Homo sapiens: one gene and its partners. The protein of the gene in region 6 purifies or fractionates together with the protein of the main gene of each other region. This does not show direct contact. Each region holds a gene or a part of one and is shown on either strand. Other genes may lie near its edges.

What was found.
Region 1: the proteins of TWNK (region 6) and LYSMD2 purify together in Homo sapiens (affinity purification with mass spectrometry; one large-scale study listed by BioGRID and IntAct). This does not show direct contact.
Region 2: the proteins of TWNK (region 6) and GID4 purify together in Homo sapiens (co-immunoprecipitation; one large-scale study listed by IntAct). This does not show direct contact.
Region 3: the proteins of TWNK (region 6) and PHLDB2 purify together in Homo sapiens (affinity purification with mass spectrometry; one large-scale study listed by BioGRID and IntAct). This does not show direct contact.
Region 4: the proteins of TWNK (region 6) and CLTA purify together in Homo sapiens (affinity purification with mass spectrometry; one large-scale study listed by BioGRID and IntAct). This does not show direct contact.
Region 5: the proteins of TWNK (region 6) and ACTL8 purify together in Homo sapiens (affinity purification with mass spectrometry; one large-scale study listed by BioGRID and IntAct). This does not show direct contact.
Region 7: the proteins of TWNK (region 6) and RANBP10 purify together in Homo sapiens (co-immunoprecipitation; one large-scale study listed by IntAct). This does not show direct contact.

Annotation. Positions count from the first base shown.
Region 1 is NC_000015.10:51,722,511-51,725,083, forward strand, and holds the end of LYSMD2 (lysM and putative peptidoglycan-binding domain-containing protein 2), read right to left. Parts: coding exon 2,280-2,573; intron 1,140-2,279; coding exon 1,097-1,139; 3' UTR 501-1,096; downstream 1-500.
Region 2 is NC_000017.11:18,059,908-18,063,407, reverse strand, and holds part of GID4 (glucose-induced degradation protein 4 homolog), read right to left. Parts: intron 1,564-3,500; coding exon 1,433-1,563; intron 1-1,432.
Region 3 is NC_000003.12:111,970,765-111,974,264, reverse strand, and holds part of PHLDB2 (pleckstrin homology-like domain family B member 2), read right to left. Parts: intron 534-3,500; coding exon 448-533; intron 1-447. UniProt on the Homo sapiens protein: Seems to be involved in the assembly of the postsynaptic apparatus. May play a role in acetyl-choline receptor (AChR) aggregation in the postsynaptic membrane.
Region 4 is NC_000009.12:36,207,921-36,210,239, reverse strand, and holds part of CLTA (clathrin light chain A), read right to left. Parts: exon of another isoform or gene 1,686-2,319; intron 974-1,685; coding exon of another isoform or gene 920-973; intron 1-919. UniProt on the Homo sapiens protein: Clathrin is the major protein of the polyhedral coat of coated pits and vesicles.
Region 5 is NC_000001.11:17,758,333-17,761,832, reverse strand, and holds part of ACTL8 (actin-like protein 8), read right to left. Parts: intron 2,505-3,500; exon of another isoform or gene 2,347-2,504; intron 1-2,346.
Region 6 is NC_000010.11:100,992,723-100,994,903, forward strand, and holds the end of TWNK (twinkle mtDNA helicase), read left to right. Parts: intron 1-467; coding exon 468-788; 3' UTR 789-1,681; downstream 1,682-2,181.
Region 7 is NC_000016.10:67,800,061-67,803,560, reverse strand, and holds part of RANBP10 (ran-binding protein 10), read left to right. Parts: intron 1-3,500. UniProt on the Homo sapiens protein: May act as an adapter protein to couple membrane receptors to intracellular signaling pathways.

The DNA of each region.
Region 1 (2,573 bases), on a different chromosome or scaffold from region 6:
AAAAAAATAACAAAAAGAAGAAAGTGAAAGTATTTTTGCTATGCTGGGATGGGGTAGATATGAGGAATTTTTGTGGAAGCCTAAAGATTTATTTAATCTAAGAGTTGAACAGAAATTGAGACCAAAACAATATTTAATTATAAATGATATATTGCTTAAAGTGTCCTACTGTAATCTATACATATAATAAAGACCAATTAAATTATGGGAATAAAAATCAATTCAAATAAGTACAGGACTACCAAACACTTATAAAGTAACTTAGCAATGAAATCTATACTAGAATTCTGCAATATAATGTCAGATTATGGTATTATTTATTTGTTCTTTTGATTTATTCCATGTTTTCACCATATCTGAATCACATTAGGTCAATGAAAATGCCAAGATTACTAGTAATTATACTTGTTTTGCTTTTAGATTATGAATACTTTTTTCAAAATTGCATTTATAATAATAAAAACCATTAAAGTGAAGAAGAAGCTGTCAGCATTTAAATGTATAATTTAAAAGTCAATTTTATTTTCTCATTTGTTAAAAAAAAAAAGGAGACTCAAGTTTGAAAACATAGTTTATTTTCTCATTCAGGCTTTTGTAGTTTATTTTTACAAAATAGCAGACAAAATTTGGTTCTTTATATTAATAGAGAATATGTAAGACATATCGAAATATATATATAGCACTTAAGTTATAAACACACAGCAAATTCAGCATCACTTAAACAGCAACCATATTTTCACATAATCAGGATTGCATAAGGAGATAAACATTATTTTTAGCCTAAATATATAAATAATCTTTGATGCTTTATGTCAATTAGTATTTATAAAAGCTAGTCTAAAAACTAACACCACCTACAAAAGTGATGAGCTTTAGGCTACAACCTTGCCATCATGCCATAATAAAGACTTAAAATTATAGAAAGCCAGAGGGAACTAATCACTTCAGTGCAACTGCAGCAGGTAGAACTACCTAGTTATGATTTTAAGATGGACACTATAGGAATCCAGAAGGGATGTTTTTGAATCTTCAGTTGTTGGATTCTTTATGGTCCAAACATATCTTAATTTTGGTTAGAGTTATGCCCCCAAATCACCTAACTGTGATAGAGGGAAGTTGCATAGGGACTTTCTTCATCTCTGAAAGAAAATAAATACAGCATAAATCAGAGTTTAGAACTGTATGCAGAAAACTAAAACATCAACTTATTATACAATATCCACTTGCCAAAGAAGGAATATATCAACTTAGAATATTGTGCATGCCTAGACAACTGTATGAAATGCCAATACTTAAGACATACCTTACTATCTCCATTTTATTCATATCTCAGTTATTAGAATAAATAATGTCATTCATTTATGTATTTATATTTGCTTATATTTACATATATTTTAAATCTATACTAAATTATATTCATATTTATATTTGTTTATGTTTTCTATATTCTACCTCTTTCCCAAAAGGATTTAAGGTACTAACAACAAAAGGCATATATACAATAAGATTAATAAAATAGAAATAAAAAAATCAGGACTAAGGAAAGGAGAAGGAAACCAATGTATTAATCATAAGAAATATTATAGGAGTTGAACACAGGTATCAATTTTAGTTGCAAGCTTCCCAATAGCCAGAGCAAAAAAGGAAACACAGTAGATTGTACTTTTTTGAAATCAAATCATAAAGAAAAAAGGAAACCAATTCTATAGGAGAGAGAAAGATTTGCCCTAATATCAAATTTAAAAAACAAAGAAAAAAGTTCACATGAGATCTTATGTAGGAAACACCCAGTAACAAATAACAGACAATGTCTTTGACAAGTTTTGCAACTATCAATATTTTACAAGTATTTTCTATGACACTACTTCTCTTGAAAGTGTCAGTGAGAGAGACACTTTTATTTTGCCGCTATCCAGAAGTGCTAGCTGGACAGTGACGCTATTAAAGCAAAGAAGCAAACTTTTTATAGTAAATAACAGATAAAAACACTGCAACAGATAAAGCCTTGTGCATCAGGCAGCAGCTCTGTTTAGAGTTTATATACTAAAAATGCCTTTCTAGAACTAAAATGCAGTTTTTAAAGCAAAAAAAGAAAGAAAGAAAGAAATTAAGAAAGGAAGAAATTAAGAAAGAAAGAAATTAAGAAAAAAAGAAAAAAAATCAGAAAGAAAGAAAAGAAAAGAAAAGGCAAAGAAAAGAGAAAAGAAAGATTTGGCCCAGCAAGGACATCTTAATAGTGATTTATTTAGACTTTGACATTTGTACCAGGGTATTCTTACCTGCTCTCTTCTTTTAGCTTCTTGGCTGCCTGTGTTGATAACTTAATCTGCAAGTCAAGTCTCTGCAGGAAATCTCTGGCTGACACTTCCTCAGGCTGCACAGGCTGAACATCAGATTCTTGAGGACTGGGAGGAGGGAGGTCTTCCCCGGCCACCACTGGCTCCTCTTCCTGAGAAAAACTGTTATCAGCAGTTTCATTTTCTGGAGAATCAATGGAGTTAAGTCCATTAAACAACAAAGGCTTCTCTGATATAACTGGGATGTTCAAAGTTTTCTTCAGAAATATACAATCA
Region 2 (3,500 bases), on a different chromosome or scaffold from region 6:
GATGCAGTCTCACTCTGTCGCCCAGGCTGGAGTGCAGTGGTGCAATCTCGGCCCACCGCAACCTCCGCCTCCGAGGTTCAAGTGATTCTCCTGCCTCAGCCTCCTGAGTAGCTGGAACTACAGGTGCGTACCAGCACGCCTGGCTAATTTTTGTATTTTTAATAGAGACGGGGTTTCACCATATTGGCCAGGCTGGTGTCGAACTCCTGACCTCGTGATCTGCCCACCTCGGCCTCCCAAAGTGCTGGGATTACAGGCGTGAGCTACTGTGCCCGGACCAAAGCTGTTATTTATTTATTTATTTATTTATTTATTTATTTATTTATTTATTTTTGAGATGGTGTCTCGCTCTGTCGCCCAGGCTGGAGTGCAATGGCCCGATCTCAGCTCCCTGCAAGCTCCACCTCCCAGGTTCACGCCATTCTCCTGCCTCAGACTCCCGAGTAGCTGGGACTACAGGTGCCTGTCACCATGCCTGGCTAATTTTTTGTTTTTTAGTAGAGACGGGGTTTCACCGTGTTAGCCAGGATGGTCTCGATCTCCTGACCTCGTGATCCACCCGCCTCGGCCTCCCAAAGTGCTGGGATTACATGCGTGAGCCACTGTGCCCGGCCAGCTGTTATTTTTAAAAAGGATTATAAAAGTTTTACAAACTTGCGTGAAAACCATTACTGAAAGCCTAAAAATCGTGGCTACAGGGCTGGCATTTACTTGCAGATATAATTTCGTTACCACTGAACAAGGAATCTAGGGTAGGATCACTTCACATATAACAAAGTGTTAAATACTGGAAAGAAAGAATTTTTACCTTCAGAGAGGAAATCAGGCATTTTATCACATGGTTTGCCCTCCGGGGACAGCAAGGTGCTTAAAAAGCAGCAAGGAGGCAGGAGAATCCCTCAAAAGGTGGCAAAAGTTAGCATTCAGGCAGAGTTCAGTCCTTTACTATTGGTGACACACTGGACAGGACTGTCCACTCACAGGCCCCCAGGTCATGAGCCTTAAATCAAGTGCATGTCGGACCAACTCTAAGGAATGCAGCCACAAAATTTAAAAAGCTGCTGACAGCAAAATTCACATTGTCCAGTACTGGATCAATTCACATTTTAGTTACTAATTCAATTTGCAAGGATTAAATAAAAACCAGCAAGATTGAGATAAACATTGCCAAAAATACAGTATTGCTTAAAAGTGCTTAGAAATGAGTTCTTTCACCTATAATTCATTTTCATCTCATTTACTCTGCTCTGTGCATAGGGATAAGGCCTTATTGTGAGCAACTGAGATCACTGAAATAAGCTCTCAGCATCCAAATAAAGCACAGAATCTATACAGAGACAGGCTAAGATGTTGCTTTTGGGTTTGATGAGCCAAGGGAGAGCCAGCTGGGCAGCAAGCCCTCCCCGTGGCCTCTGTCCTCAGAGGTCCTCACCATTCTGAACTCCTATGGTAGTAGTAGCCCTCTATGGAGGCTGCTGACTTCTGAAAGCAGATGTAGTAGAACCCGGCAAAAGAAGCACCACTGATGTCTTTGATCGTGTGATCTGGGACCAGAAACTGTTCCTGCACACAGATGAAGAGGGTCAGTAACAGATAGCATTCTCTGACCACCCACGGGGCCTCCCTGTTAAGCATCAGGGGGTTCTAAGGACCACTCGAGAAAAATATAGGATCTCATAGTCTAACCTAGACTTGCTGGGTGATGGCGGGCCCGTGGGGTCTCAGCCTGACTTCTAAAAAGCGTCCATGTGCTCCTGGAGTATTCTATATACTAAAGTGACAAACTGTGTCTTGAGCTCACTAGGATCAGCAATTCAGAGAAGGTACCATGGCCGAAACATCTAATATATAAATCAATACCTACTCACCTGCCTGTCTGCCTGCCTCTCTATCTTTCAGAGACCACAGACAATCAACCTGGGAAGAGCGAAGTTTCTGCTCCAGTTCTCAGAACTGTCAACAGATGCTTGATAACATCTAGAACAGTGAGTCGCTTCTGTAGGTCTGTGGACCATTCTGAGTGCAAAGCAGTTGCCAGTAGCCCCTGTGACACCCCCTCCAAGAGCTTGACGCCTTGTCAAAAGCAGTCAGAACGGTACTGTTCTTTACCAGGGACCTTAGGAGAGAGGCAAGCTTGCCACCTCTGCTGGAGCTGAAAGCTGGAAACCCAGGTCCTGGCACCTACTTTCCCAGAGAGATGAGGTCAGAAGCTCCAGGGCCTCAGGTGGTCTACTAAAGGACCACAGATGAGCCACTCTGAGACATTCTTTGGAGGCAAAACAAGCCCATTGCTTTTTAAACAAATTTAAGACACCCTCCCATTCCTTATTCAACTTCTAAAATTGTGGCTTTTAAAATTAATTTTAAAATTCAGATCGGGTGTGGTGGCTTATGCCTGCAATCCCAACACTTTGGGAGGCTGAGGTGGGTGGATCACCTGAGGTCAGGAGTTTGAGACCAGCCTGGCCAATATGGCGAAAACCCGTCTCTACTAAAAATACAAAAAATTAGCAGGGCATGTTGGCGGGCACCTGTAATCCCAGCTACTTGGGAGGCTGAGGCAGGAGAATTGCTTGAACACGGGACGGGGAGGTTGCAGAGAACCGAGATCGCGCCATTGCACTCCAGCCTGGGCAACAGAGTGAGACTGTCTCAAAAAACAAACAAACAAACAAAAAAACCCAAAAATTAGCCAGGCGTGGTGGTACGCGCTTGTAGTCCCAGTTACTCAGGAGGCGGAGGCAGGAGACTTGCTTGAACCTGGGAGACGGAGGTTGCAGTGAGCCAAGACTGTGCCACTGCACTCCAGCCTGGGCAACAGAGTGAGATTCCGTCTCAAAACAAACAAAATTCAAACAATAAACTTCCTTTAACAGGTTGTTTAGTTGACATGTTTCCCGCTAGATGGCAAGCTCGTGAGCATACTGTTCCCTGTTTACTCTCTGCATCTGGCAACCTACTGGAAGAGTGGTGATCCCCACTTCTTTTTTTTTTTTTTTTTTTTTTTGGTGAGACAGAGTCTTGCTCTGTCACCCAGCCTGGAGTGCAGTAGCGCAATCTTGGCTCACTGCAACCTCCACCTCCTGGGTTCAAGTGATTCTCCTGCCTCAGCCTCCCGAGTAGCTGGGATTACAGGCGTGCACCACTACACCTGGCTAATTTTTGTATTTTTAGTAAAGACGGGGTTTCACCACATTGGCCAGGCTGGTCTCGAACTCCTGACCTCGTGATCTGGCTCTCTTGGCCTCCCAAAGTGCTGGGATTACAGGCATGAGCCACCGCGCCCAGTGATCCCCATTTCTTTTTTTTTTTTTTTTTTTTTTGAGATGGAGTCTTGCTCTGTCGCCAGGCTGGAGTGCAGTGGCGTGATCTCAGCTCACTGCAACTTCCATCTCCCAGGTTCAAGTGATTCCCCTGCCTTAGCCTCCTGAGTAGCTGCGACTACAGGGGCATGCCAACATGCCCGGCTAATTTTTTGTATTTTTTAGTAGAGATGGGTT
Region 3 (3,500 bases), on a different chromosome or scaffold from region 6:
TTTTTCAGGATTGACCATTTTTCTGAACAGGAAATCTCAGACAGAACTCATAAATTATTTCAGCAGCTAGTTTGTAAAGCTCTAGCAGGGTACCTAGCTGAGAGTAGGAGTTTAATAAATAGTAGCTGTTATTCTTAGCCCTACTAGGACTTGCTCACGATCCCCCTCTTAACTATATGGTAGCTTCTTTTTAGAACCCTGGCAGAGTCGTTTCGCAGGGTTTCCCAAACCATTATGTCCAGAATATTTCCTCAATTTGCTATGATATTTTTTTTCCTCAAAGAGAACGGCCATCCCACTTACTTCATGTTTACTTTTCCAGCACCATTCTGATCATATCTATCTGTTACATCAGAACATCAATTTCAAACTTCTTAGACTCCAAAAATATTTTTCCCTTCTTAATTATGCATTCAAATTGTAGGAATTTAGAAAACTGATGTTTACCTTATTAGCATTCTTGAGGTGATCATAATAGACTTCTTCAATGGCTTGAAAGTATATTACTCCTTTCAATTTAGTTTCATGCTTGTCTGCAAAGACAGATAAGTGTTAAATACTTTATCGCCACTGAGGAACAGAAAAAATAATAATTTTATTACAATTATAATCATTAAAATATTTACAAAGTATTTAATTTATCTAAGATTAATTCAGAGAACTTGGGCTAGTGCATGAGGCCCCTTCTATCTATACTGGAAAAATAAAAAAAGAAAAGCCATAAAATTACTAGCTGCAAACCGAAGAACGAGATGACTTTGCCTAAGGCTCTCCAGCAGATTAGCAGTCAAAAGATAACCCAACATACTGACTTTCAGGTTAGCATGGAAAGTGTAAACTCTAACAGCACCAATACAAATGATTTCTCCACATTTTCCAAGACCGTCTTTGTAATGAAAATATTAATATGTAGATCTGTTGTAATAAAATTTTTACAAAGTGTTTTTTGACTTGTTATTTAAAATAATTTTCTACCCATATTTATTTCCTATCAAATTTCTTATTCAGGGTGCGTGATTTTTCCCCCGTTTTCAACAGAGCTACAAGCAAATAATTTATTGTCCTTTCAATGCAACAATTTCCAAACTGTTTTCAAAGATTTCATCACATTTACCATAAAAACAAAGCAAAACAAAAACAACCAAAACATGACTCAAACATATAGCACCACTCTGTGATCTACTAAGTTCTTGAAATATTTTGTAACTTAAACTCTGCAAGGATCACAGTGCGTGTCAGCATATTAAAGAATTTTAAAAGCATGAATGAGGAGGCAGGGAAAGAGACTCTATCATACCCTAGTAGTGGAAGTGCAAATAAGACAGCCTCTTTTGGAAGACAGTAGGTAAAACAAACACAATTAAAAACACAAAAATCCTCTTACTAAGCAATTCCACTTACTGTATAAGATCTCGTGTGTGTGCAAATAAATGTACATGGATTTGTGTTTGTTGTGGCACAAGGTTGCAAAAGATCTGCTTGAGCTTTAATAGGAGACTGATTCAATTATAGACCAGTCATACAATGAAATCTACAAAGTTACTGAAATGATGGAGGTAGATCTGTATCTGCTCCTAAGGAAAAAACCCTTGAAATACTATTATATGAAATAGGGTACGAATAGAATGAATAATTTAGTCCCAAATGTATAAGAGGAAAAAAGAAAATATATACATACTGAAACATATATAGAAGTGAATAGAGAAAATATGAAATATTTAAGGCTTAAAAACGAGAGATCAGAACTTTTGTAATGATAAAGAGACTTACTTTCATCATACAAATTTTTGTTATATTTTGAATTTTTTACTAGGTGAATGTCCCTTTTTAACTACAAAAAGCTAGTCTAAAAAATAATGGCCCTGAAAAGTTCAGCAGAGAGTAAAACTATTTAATTGCATTTAATCCAGAATATCCTAACCTATTTGCCCATTGACGATATTTTTTTCTTTGTTTTTCCTCTTCCTTGTGAAACACTGTTTTAACTGATACCATGTTCAGTTAAGTTTCAGTCAGTTTCTGCGAAAGACAAGGTCAATGTATCTCTCAAACATTTGCTGGAAATGATATTGCAGTAATTCATGAGAATACAATAATACTTTGTTTTCTGAAAGCAAATGTAAAATAAAATCTGGAGATAAAAGCAAATCTTGCCAGTGTTTCAAGCAAGCAGAAGGAAACTTTGGTTTGCAGGGCACTTCATATATGAGAAAGAACTCTGAAAAATATAAGCCTCACAGCCACATTATGAGCGAAGAGAAGCAATGATGCTATTGTAAATTGATGAGATAACGCTGCACATTCTGTCTCTCTCAGTATTATGCCATCAATTTGCAGACATATTTTCTAGGCCTCGGTTTTCTTTAGAGACTCTCCTAAAGATCCCAGTTAATATGCAGGAGGCCAAGGACAAAGGCCAGGGCCATGAATAACACAGAGTCCTGGGACTTTGCCACTCAGTGTTCACATTTGCAGCTCCTTCACAAGTACACGGCCATTTCCCTCACTGACAGACAGAAGGGACATGACTCCTGTAGGGTTAAGTACAGCGTAAATTGCGATCTGGATGACTGCCTGCGGACTGGTCTATTCCTGTGCTTGTTGTGTATGAGAAGCAGGGGTGGGGGTAGGAGTGGACAAAGCTGATAGGTGATGGCCGTAAACAGAACCGAACGAGCAGCGTTTGTCCAACTAGGTCTCACCAGCCAGTTATATCATAAATACATATTAAAAAGCAAATGAAATGTAATTTTTGTCTGTTTTTTTAAATTAGGGTTCTGGGTAATTTTTCATATACCAAGAAGGTTTTGGTATTTTTTTAAAATTGAAATCAGTCACCAGAAGTTTTGGTTTGCAAAGACACATTTACATGGGTCTGAAGCTTGGAGCTTAGGTTTGAAGCAGTTGGCCAGGTCATGAAACCACTCACCTGGCCGATAGATGAGAGAATGAAATAAGGCTCACAGAGAACAGGAGCACAGAAGAAGAGTGAAGCAGTTTTGTGTGAAGTTCTTTAAAGTTGTATTTTTGGAAAATTCTGGGTGAGGTTTTCTGAAGACAATACCACATCATACAGTTTTGTTTATGCAGTGTGCAGACATCAAATTGTATTAACTGAAGAAAGCTGCTCTGGATGTTTATAAAACTCAATGACAAAAAGCCTTAGAGAGGCAAAGCAGGGGACCTAGGACCGGCAGGCCATCGGCTTCAGGCCACTAATTTCTCCAGTAACTGGAACCTCACCCAAAGAGCTCCTCGGTGAAAGGCAGGCATTCCCCTACCAGCTCCTCACCCATTTTCTGGGGCTCCTGAGCCACTCTTTCCTTTCTTCCACAGGCTGCTTGGTTTCTCACACTTCTCCTTATAAACATAACCTGACCTCACTGGATTGATTAAATGACTAGACTGTTATTTATATTTTATTGCATCGATACATTTTACTATTCCTGGTGATGCTCATAAATACTGACAGTCACCCCAAAACAGGGTTTTTTTCATAA
Region 4 (2,319 bases), on a different chromosome or scaffold from region 6:
CTCTCCTCTTCCATTCCACCCTTACTTCTCATGTAAAGCCAGCCCTAATTTTTAAGGAGGAGACAATGAGAACTGTTTCCAACTCTTCAGCAATACTGCTTTGATAAAAGAAATCCTTAAAAAAAAGAAAAAAGAAAAAAAGAAAAAAAAAAGAATAAGAAAAACACCTTCTCCAGAGAAGATGCAGGTTTCTTTTGGGGGGGTCAGGGGGAGAAGCCCAAGTGGCCCGTATCAAGACACTTTGACTATCCTGATCTCAAAGCTGGGGGCTTCCCTGTGCTAGGAGACAGGACATCAGAAGCTGACCACTAAATAGCAATTTCTGACATGCAAGACCACAGAGGAACAATTATAGACACCCACTGGAGACAACCCCCTCTGCTCTGGACTCTTCTGCCTGAGGGAGAGGCAAACGACCCCACATTGTTTGAATGAACCAAGTATGGAAAATGCTGCCCCACAGCTCTGATTTTGGCAATGCAAGGTGCTGCTGCTCACTGGCTCCTAACCTCCTGGGACTGCCACCTGCTCCCAGGTGGGGAAACCTCCTTCCCACCTGAGGCAGGCAGGCAACAGGGCATGGCAGCAGTGATGGCAGCCAAGAGCAAGAGAGCAGAGTTCCCCCGAGCCTCAAACCGTTCCCAGATAAGATCGCAAATGACACATTTTGAAAGCGAGTTAGCTTTCTTCCCTCCAAAACCCCAAATATGAAAAATGGCCATCAGAGGATGCAGGGAGTCACAAATCTGGAAGATTCATCAACAGATCATACCCCGCTTATCAATTCTTAGGCAGCCCCCAAAGTGCCAATTTGAAATAATTTAAAAAGCAAAGCAACTTGTGACATAAAAGGAGCATTAACTCTAAACAAAAGTAGAAAGAATCAGATGTAGAAAAAGGAATTAGTTTTGCAACATACACATAACCAATCACGTCAGCGAAGGGTTGTTTGTAGAAAGCTTCATCTGCCACCCTAGACAGCAAGAGGTCCAAAAGGCAGGCAAGCAGGCAGGAAAAAAGAGAGAACATTGAGAAGCAGAAACATCTAAAATCCACAATTGAGGTACAACTGTGCTCTGAGGAGCTGCTCCCAAGGCTCCTTCCTAACCCCCGTGAGGCTTCCAGCGCTGGAGACTTCAGCAGGCCTGGTTTCCCGCTGGCCTTCCCACGTGGGGACTGCTCCACGACAGAGCAAGCACTGCCAACTTCATCCCTTTGGCTCACCCCAGCAACACGGGCATTTATTAAGCACCCAATCATGGACTAAGCCCTTTCACATACATTATGTTGATTCAATCCTTAACTGTTAACAACCTATGACCCTGACTGTTCTCACCCCCACTGTACAGATGAGGTAACTGAGGCTTAGAGATGAACAACTTGCTCAGCTACACCACAGTGGCAGCATTCAGGACTCACAACCAAGGCAGCCTGGCCCTAAGTCCAGGGCTCTTTCTACTGTATAGTCATGCTTCTTCCCTGCTGTATGTGCCCAGAAAGCCACGCCACCTTCCTGTTTCAGTTAATGCACTGGGCAGGAATGCTGCCAGACACCAGATGCGCTAGGACCCAAAGCCAGTTTTATCTTGGATTATCTAACTACTGCTTCCCCACACTGTCTGGGTGGGATACACTTCCAGAATCCTGGGAACACATATCGTCATTTTAAAATCTCAACCTTACAGGAAAAAACGGCTGGAGGTGAGTGGTCTGGTGGGAAGAACACTGGACTAGGATCCTGGCCCTGGCTTCTGTTGTTCCTGAATATGGCTCTCTCTCTACTCAAGAAGCGGGTACAGTTTCTGAATATTTTTACACCAGACTCAATTGGCTTTGATAAGGTGCAGCCCAGAATCCAGAACTTCATCCCTTCTTAACTCTCAACATGGCAGGGCTCTCAGACAGGAAGGAGGGGGCAGACTGGGTGGATAAATTTTGACAGCAGGGGCCAGGCTGGCTTTGACTCTGTTGTCCTGGACTGACTCCCTGGGCTCTGCCAGCCCACTCTTCTCCACTGTGGCTGGACATGGAACCTCCCTCATGGAGTCTTACCCTGTCCTTTGTCAAGTCGATTTGGGGTGGGCAAGGGGAAAGACATTTTTCAAGGATAATCATGCCTGGTCATTAAGCTAACCTCACATACTTATTTGAAGGCAAATTCTAGTAATTTTAAGTTAATTTTTAAGCTCACACATGCCCTTCCTTCTTTCCCATTTTGTTTTATACACAGGAGGTGTTTTGTGGAAATTTAAAGAAAGCAAAAAGAGCAGGCTGATTATAACTTAAAGTGACTCAGCAGGAAAACAGAGTTGTTTGTGG
Region 5 (3,500 bases), on a different chromosome or scaffold from region 6:
TTGAGAGGCCGAGGAGGGCGGACCACCTGAGGTCGGGAGTTCGAGACAAGCCTGGCCAACATGGTGAAACCCCGTCTCTACTAAAAATACAAAAATTAGCTGGGCGTGGTGGTGGGTGCCTGTAATCCCAGCTACTTGGGAGGCTGAGGCAGGAGAATCACTTGAACCCAAGAGGCAGAGGTTACAGTGAGCTAAGATCACACCACTGCACTCCAGCCTAGGTGAAACAGCGAGACTCAGTCCCAAAAAAAAAACAGAACAAGTTTGGGCCCACATACCCAAAAGCCTGCCTTCCCCGTGTTCCTTCGGTAATTAATTGTCCCACTTTAAAGTCGAAGCTATGAAGACCCAGCAAGATTACCTGGGCGGATCACACAGAGTCTGTGCCAACAAGAGCCTGGCCCAGGGAGACCACTTCCTGCATCCTGTAAGCGGCCCAGCTCAGTCCCCGGAGGTAGGAGGGAAGCAGGTAAAGCAGAAACATGCATTTATTAAGTCACTGCTGCATGCCAGGCACTGCGCTAGGCCCTTTGGCATCTAAGATCTTTCTAAATGCCACAGTGGCCAAGCACAGTGGCTCACACCTGTAATCCCAGCACTTTGGGAGGCCGGGAGGGCTGCTTGAGCCCAGGAGTTTGAGACCAGCCTGGGCAACATAGCAAGACCTTGTCTCTACCAAAAAAAAAAAAAAAAAAAAATTAAGCCGCAATGACCCCTGTCCCCGAGTTTGCATAGGGTAGCTCCTCTTTCCTCCCTCTGCAGTGAAGCACCCACCCCCACCAGTCTGGCCACATTCTGGGCCCAGAGAGGGATAGGGACCTGGCTCCCTCCAATAAGGACTTGTGCTACCTTATTTAAACGTCACTGCCGCACATAATTAGAGGCACTTACCCCCTCGGATCCATCTTTCTCCTCAGATCGGTTTTATAGCCAGTAATAACTCTCGTAAATTCTTCAACAGATGGAAATTTTATTTGACTAATCATGGCCGCTTGACTTGCTGGGGCACAGCAGCTCGGGGCTTGGACAGGCAAGATGCCAGCTGAGGTGATTGTCAGGGGGCTGGGCAAAGTGCCCAGAACCCAAGGCCACCTTGTCCACCCACTCCTCTGAGGGATGCCACAAGAAGGCATCAGAAAGTGCCCAGCACTGCACAGCAACGGGCAGCTGTGCCCCACCTTCTAGGTCCAGAGTTGTCTCTAAGCAGGGCACCAAGACCCTTTGCCACCCCCCTGGGCTCTTGGACTGTGAACACATAATGGCTAGCACCAGGGGGAAGCTAGGACATCCTGCCTGAAACACCTAAAAATGGCAGTCCTGTTGGCTGCAACCACTGTGCATCTGCTCCATGCCAGCCCCATGCCAAGTGCCCCTCATGCTTCATCCCACTCAGTCCTGCCAACGATCCTATGCACGCCTGTGAAAAACCCATTTCACAGTTTAGGAAAAAGACAATGGAGCAAAGTCCCACACCAAGTCACCAGTTTGAGCTGCCACCCTCATCTGGGGAATTGAAGACTGGCATCTCCCCTCCCATTCACTCCTTCTAAGACCCACATCGAATCCATCAGTGTTACTTAAAATAGACCCACAAAACTTCCAGCAGCTCCTCAGCACCCTCTAGACAAATTGAAAGCCCTGTGGCCTGGCCTTCCCAAAGGAACCTCATTCGAGGTATTTATCCAAGAGATATGAAAACGCATAACACAAAAAAGCCCATCCACTCAAGAATACACATCACAGATTATTCATAATAGCCCCAAATTGGAAATGTCCACAGGAAAACTGTGGACAAACTGTGGCCAGTATGCACAATGGGCATCACTCTGCATCCTATTAGGAGGGGGAAGCTGCGCAGTCATTTGAATAGGTAAGTTTCATATAAAGGATTATTAACCATAATGGGAGGTGGAATTAACAAGAAACTGGCTAGAAAGTAAAGGGAACTCTGAAGAATATAGGTTTAGGAGACAAAAGGAGCAGCTGCTGCCCCCCAGGGCTGAAAGAGACCCTCAGAAGCAAAAGTCCCCCACCCCACCCAGTGCTGAGCTAGAGTATCAAGCAAACGCACCTTCTCTAGGGCTGACATCCAGCCCTCAAGGAAGAGGCTTCTACTCCAGCGTTATGGCAGAGCCCCTAAAGAACAGTTCTTCAACCTGAGCTGACAGAGTGCCCAAGGAGGAGCCTCCACCCAGAAACAAGCATCCTCCCACAAACACCCCTGAGGGCTGATATCCAGGCCTTGCTGAAGAGGGTATGGCTGTGCCTCACTACATTGGGGGAGAAAAAAAGTTGGTCTGGTGCACACCAGCAGAACTTGCAAGAAAGCCAACCTGTAGAACTTACCAGAAATCTGCCCCGCAGGGTGCCACAAAAGCTGCTCACAGGAGGTGTCTCACCAGAGGCACCCACTACAAAACTGCCTAAAATAAGGTGCTGCTGGCCTCTGCTGAGCACGGCAGCAGCCAGCACTGAGCGGCACGTGCTGCAGGAGCAGGCCCTGTGAGCACGTGGCAACCAGGAAGCAGAAGGTCCCTGCTGCAGAGGCTCCTCGGCGCCCTCTACTGGCAAAGCCCAGCTTGCTGCCTGGACAGGGAGAAAATTTAAAGGGCCCAGATCCATTTTCACCAGGCAGGCAAGAAGGGTGATTGGACACAGAAAAGCAATAATTGATAACCAGAAAAGCCCATCTCTTTGACTACTTAGCTTCCATATGAATCCTCCTGCACACCACTGAAGTCCTGTACAACAACACAACTGCGTATTTCTATCTAAAAAGATGCAGCTATCATCCTTGTAAGTTCTCACTCACTCCCCAAAACAAGGAGACTAATAGGCCCAGGAGTCGTCATGGACTATATTTATTAGGACTTAAATACCGATCACAGTTCCATGGAACATTCTGTCACCTAAAGACTATAAAGTCGACTTCCAAAAACTTGCATATAAAACAAAAATGGGAAGAAGAGAGAAGAAAATGGATAATTACCAAGTGTGCTTACTCTAATTGTTTATTCAGGAGCTCAGAAAATAACTTCGGGGTGGGCATGGACCAAGCAAATCTACTGAGAGTCAGACTACAGCTAAGACTCTATCCCTGACCATCACAAGCCCCACTTTGACTTATGAGCCAGAGTGGCATTTTAGATCCCCAGGAAACAGCATCAGTTCAGAGTTAGTGCCAAGTAACTCCAGAACTGTCTGGGTATGTCCATTTCCCTATTATTTTGGTAAATGGTCACAGGTCCCTTTGGAGGAAGGTTTGGAGGAAGATTTACAATAAGTATTTATGGCAATGATGCAGGCTCCTTCCTCAAGGGGACCCGGCCACCCAGGGATTCTGGGTCTGTGAATTGACTTAGGGTCTGGAAACTGAATGAGAAGCCATGACTATCAATTGCCAGGTTTTGGCTACCGGGCCTAGAACTTTCTATCACATATAAAAATACATGAAATAATACTCTAGTAGGCTGCCCACTTATTTCATTCCCAGAGACACT
Region 6 (2,181 bases):
TGGTCAGTAGTTCAAAGAGCTTTGGTCATGGGGGGAAGTACTTTTCCCTCTCCCATTCTTTCTCTTTTTTTTTTTCTTTTTTGAGACGGAGTCTCGCTCTGTTGCCCAGGCTGGAGTGCAGTGGCACAATCTTGGCTCACTGCAACCTCCGCCTCCCGGATTCAAGCGATTCTCCTGCCTCAGCCTCCCAAGAAGCTGGGACTATAGGTGCATGCCACCATGCCCAGCTAATTTTTTGTATTTTTAGTAGAGATGGGGTTTCACCGTGTTAGCCAGGATGGTCTTGATTTCCTGACATCGTGATCCACTCGACTCGGCCTCCCAAAGTTCTGGGATTACAGGCGTGAGCCATTGTACCCAGCCCCTCTCCCCATTCTTATCACTCCTCCCTGCCCTGTCAGCCCCCCTTTCTGCTTTGCTCATGTCCTCTTACTCCTGCTTTCCTCCTTCTGCCCCCTGTTCCCCAGGCAAGCCAGGAAGCAGACAATGTTCTGATCCTGCAGGACAGGAAGCTGGTAACCGGGCCAGGGAAACGGTATCTGCAGGTGTCCAAGAACCGCTTTGATGGAGATGTAGGTGTCTTCCCGCTTGAGTTCAACAAGAACTCCCTCACCTTCTCCATTCCACCAAAGAACAAGGCCCGGCTCAAGAAGATCAAGGATGACACTGGACCAGTGGCCAAAAAGCCCTCTTCTGGCAAAAAGGGGGCTACGACACAGAACTCTGAGATTTGCTCAGGCCAGGCCCCCACTCCCGACCAGCCAGACACCTCCAAGCGTTCAAAGTGAAGGCCGTGCAGAGCTGGTCACTGAAATGAGCCTGATAGGATAGGCTGGAGCATAAAACTCTGCAAGGGCTCCTCTATCCTGTGGTCCTGAGCTGTGTGCCCTTCTCAGTCTGAGGGGCCTAACCTAGAGCAGGTTTCCATAGTGAGAAAATTCAATGTAGCAGACTACTGAGAAACTACTGTGTTGCTCAGGCTTTGTTTGAGGTCCTGTATATACAGCACTGAAAAGAGAGATAAAGTCCCTGCCTGCATGCATTCTGGCGGAAGAGACAAGCAAGCAATGAACAAATTAGCAGAAAACCTAGTTTTAGTGAAAAATGCTGTAAAGAAAATAGAAATGCGATAGAGTGCTGGCAGGCTAGTGTAGATAAGTGGTCTGAAAAGGTGTCTCTGAGCCGAGGGCATGTGAGCTGGGGCCTAAACAACTAGAAGGAGAGAGCCACGTGAACATCCGGCGAAGGGGACCCAGGCAGAGAGAAAAGGAAATCCAAGCCCTGAGGTAGGAATGAGCAGGTCAGATTCAAGGCAGTGAGGTCAGGCCGCATGAACCTGGAGGGGAATCGGGGACTTCATGCGAAACTCCAGCCTAGGCTTTCAAAGTCAAAGGGTGATACAGTGGGTACCAAGCTCCTCTGCTCCCCACTTTGTAGAGCCTAGCATGAGGTGGCATGTACTAGAATTGGATCCTAGGTGCTTAGCCCTGCAATATCAGGGCCTCACTGGTGGGAGCTGCCTCGGGCTGGGTTGCTTGGTCATAGAGCCATAGAAGGAAGCTGTCAGCCCGGAGTGCCTGCCACCTAGACACTGATGCCATTGTGTGCTGCCTCAAGACTGCTGGAGTCAGGACATTTTATAGAGCCTTTTCCAGTTTTACTAAAAAATTTTTCCATTGCCTTTGTTTCTGTGCTTTTTCTTATTCATCCACCAGGTGTCTCCCCAGTCCGTAGCTGAATTTCCCTTTCGGGATTGGGAATGGACGGGTCCCCTCCCACTGCTTGCAGCCTTTGAGCGGTGGGCTTCCAAGGAAGCAGGGACATTAAAGGGCCTTCACACCCCACCTTCCATTTACATCTCTTCTTGGCCTAGGGAAGACAAGATGATCTGTCCTCATACCTAACTTCCCTGAGGATCTCGAGTGATTCCTGGCACAGGTACTCATCACTGGGCCACATGAGCCCAGTGCCCTGCCTGACTGGCCATTCCTCTGTGATGTGAGCCACTCACCTCTCAAGTGGACTTAGACTCAACATATTCTGTCCACCCCCATCCATCTCCCTCCTGTACCCTCTCCGTGTTTCTCATATGCTAATGCGTGCCAGAACTCCTGGGGACTTGTGAAAAATGCAGAAACTAGGCCCCATTCTCCCCCCATCCTCCACCACGTACATTTCTCA
Region 7 (3,500 bases), on a different chromosome or scaffold from region 6:
CTCCTGCCTCAGCCTCCTGAGTAGCTGGGCTTACAGGCATGTGCCACCACACCAGGCTAATTTTGTATTTTTAGTAGAGATGGGGTTTCTCCATGTTGGTCAGGCTGGTCTCAAACTCCTGACCTCAGGTGATTCGCCTGCCTTGGCCTCCCAAAGTGCTGGGATTACAGGTGTGGGCCACCGCACCCAGCCTAATTTTTTAAATTATTTGTAGAGATGAGGTCTTGCTATGTTGCCCAGGCTGGTCTCTAGTGATCCTCCCACCTTGGCCTCTCAAACTGCTGGGACTACAGGCATGAGCTACTGCACCCGGCCATCTTTCATTTTTATCCCCATCTAGTGCGTTTACAGACAGGAAAGTTAAATTTATGGGAGGGCTTCAAAGCTCCTATTTTCACCTTCCACCGTCTGATAGAAGCACATATATTTAGTGTGCTTGAACTAGTGTGAATGAGAATAGCCCCTTAAAACAAGCACCTTGAAAATAATGTTGACTAAAATGGTGGTGCTGGAGTCTCATACTGCCACAGAAACTGAAGTGCACTTCTTAAATTTGTAGGGAGGAAAATGGATTGTTTTCTCCTAGTCTTTATCATAGATAACAGCTGAGTTAGTTATCTAGGTAGAGAGCAGAGACCAACTTCAGAAGGGAAGTGTTTACACTTAGAGACCTGGATTCTTTTTTTCTTTTTGTATTTTTTGAGAGATGAGGTCTGGCTATGTTGGAGATCTGGATTCTTTCAACTGGTTTTAACATTTCAGTTTTAGTCGATCTTGCTGTGTCATGTTAGATTGGTGAACTATAGGTGTTGACTGGAAGTCTAAAGAAAGGTGGGCATCTATTCCCAGCATTTTACATGTGGTAAACATGGCTGTTGAGCTGATCTGGAAACATCAGATGTTAATTAATTAATTTATTTATTTGCCACACAGTCTCCTTTATCATCCAGGCTGGAGTGCATTGACTCAATCTCGGCTCATTGCAACCTCTACTTTCTGGGTTCAAGTGATTCTCCTGCCTCAGCCTCCCGAGTAGCTGGGATTACAGGCATACGCCACCACGCCTGGCTAATTTTTGTATTTTTAGTAGAGATGGGGTTTCGCCATGTTGGCCAGGCTGGTTTCGAACTCCTGACCTCAGGTGATTCACCTGCGTCAGTCTCCCAAAGTGCTAAGATTACAGGCATGAGCCATGGTGCCCAGCAAGGAAACATCAGTTTTAGAAAGGTCTCAGGTCATGTATACCTGTGGTATCCTGCTTCAGTTGACCACTGTCAGATGGCAAGAGTATGAATAGCTCCTCATGGTCTCTTTATGGAATCCCTGAAAGCCTTCCCATGGCTGGGATGCAGCCACATGTTAGTATGGGCCAGGTGGGTTTTGAGGAGGCCAAAGGCAGTTACACAGGGCAGGCAGACATCAACTGGCTCATTTCCCTTTTTTTGTAGATTTTTTTTTTTTTTTTTGAGGCAGGGTCTCGCTCTGTTGCTCAGGCTGGAGTGCAATGGCATGATCACAGCTCACCGCCACCTCAACTTCCTGGGCTCAGTCAATCCTCCCACCTCAGCTTCCTGAGTAGCTGGGACTATAGGTGTGTGCCATCATGCTTGGCTCATTTTCTTATTTTTTGTAGAGATGGGGTCTCACAATGTTTCCTAGGCTGGTCTTGAATTCCTGGGCTCAAGTATTTCTTCCACCTCAGCCTTCCAAAGTGCTGGGATTATAGTCATGAGCCACCATGCCCAGCTGATTTTTTTTTTAACTATTTTATAGAGATGGGATCTTGCTGTGTTGTCTAGGCTGGTCTCCAACTCCTAGCCTCAAGTGATCCTCCTGCCTCAAAGTGATCCAAAGTGCTGGGATTGCAGGCAGGAGCCACCATTGTCAGCCTCCCATGGATTTTGGAGGTGTGTTTTTTATCCTGGTTTAGTCCATGACCCAAGCATTAACTGGTTGTCTAGCTTTCCTGTGTTACCTAGTTTGATCCTCACAGCATCTCTGGCAAGTGGCTAGAGCAGGTGATCATCTACCTTCCCATTTTGTGAGTGAGCCCTGAGTCCCTGGGATGTTTGGTGGCCTACCCTGGCTGCAGGGCTTAGGGTGTGCAGTGGAGTAGCCTGACTTATCAGATGTCCTCGCCTGATCCTAGACACACATGTCCATGCTGCTGCTGCCTTTCCCCATTGTAGCTGTTGCATTTCTTCCCTGGGTAGAGTGAAGGAATGTTCTGTTGGATTCCTACCAGATTGCAATGTTAGGGGACAGAGCTGAAAGGTGCATGGTGCTGTGTAGGGCCAGAGAATTGTGGCATGCTCTGGGCCGGGCTTGATCAACTTACTGTTCCATTTAATCTGTAAACTTGCTTTTCTGTAGATTTGAGTACACCTCCTTTGTAAAAGGTATTTATAAACCCAGTTGTTAGTGTCATTGTTCTCCAGAACGTCCTTTGTTTTGACAATATCTTTTGGAGAAGAACACACTAAGCTAGTCTAATAAGGAAAGTTTCATGTCAAGATTTCACAGAATATTTATATATACCTACTATGTTCCAGGCCCTATACTAGGTATAGGGAGAACAGATGTAAAGCCAGCACAGATCAGCTTTGTCCTCAGGAAGCCTGTGGCCCATTCAGTAGAGAGTGGACTGAAAGTCTTTCTGCAAGAGGAGGCAGAGCCTGGGAACAGTTGGGAGGAATGAGTAGGAGTTCCCCAGTAGGCGAGACCTGTTAGACCTATGAGTCTGATGGGTAACTAGCTTGACTTCTGGGTGCTAGGCTTTCTGGGCACTCCTCAAGTATAAGAGAGCTCTGTGGAGTAGGAGGGGCTGTGTTTGAGCTAAGAGCTTGGCACAGACTGATGGGCTTCAACTGCATTTTGCCGAGTCACCAGAGCTGTGAACTCGGGGAGCGGGTCTGGTGGGGTGAGGAGACATCAGAGCACTGCCAGTGGTGCCAGGAGATAAGGGGCATCCAGGTCTGTCTTTCTAGGAAGCGAAGGAGGGCCTGAAGCTGAGGGTCCCTGGGGAGGAGCAATGTCTGCAGGCAGAGTTCATGGACCTGTGGGTGTCCCTGGCTCTTAGTGATGACACATGGAGGGTGTGGCTGGCTAGGCTGACAGATGCTCCAGTGTGACCCTCAAAATAGACTGTAACATCATCCCAGCGGCGGAGGCCTCCTGACATGTGATGGTTGCTTTACCCAAGAGTAGTAGGCCTGGGCTAGAGCACTGGAAGGCATGGAGAGGGGTGGGGGCATTTTCCTCTGTAGCCAGTGTCTGGGCCCAGGCCCAGAGCAGGGGTCTCTGACCACAGCCAGCCTTCCCTTGCTCCTGCAGCTGACTTCCTTTGGCCAGGCAGCAGTGCACTCATTCATTCATTCCAGACACCAGGGCGCAGTACCCATTGTTTTTTTTTTTTGGTTGTTGTTGTTGTTGTTGTTTTTGAAACAGAGTCTCGCTCTGTTGCCAGGCTGGAGTGCAGTGGCACAATCTTGGCTCACTGC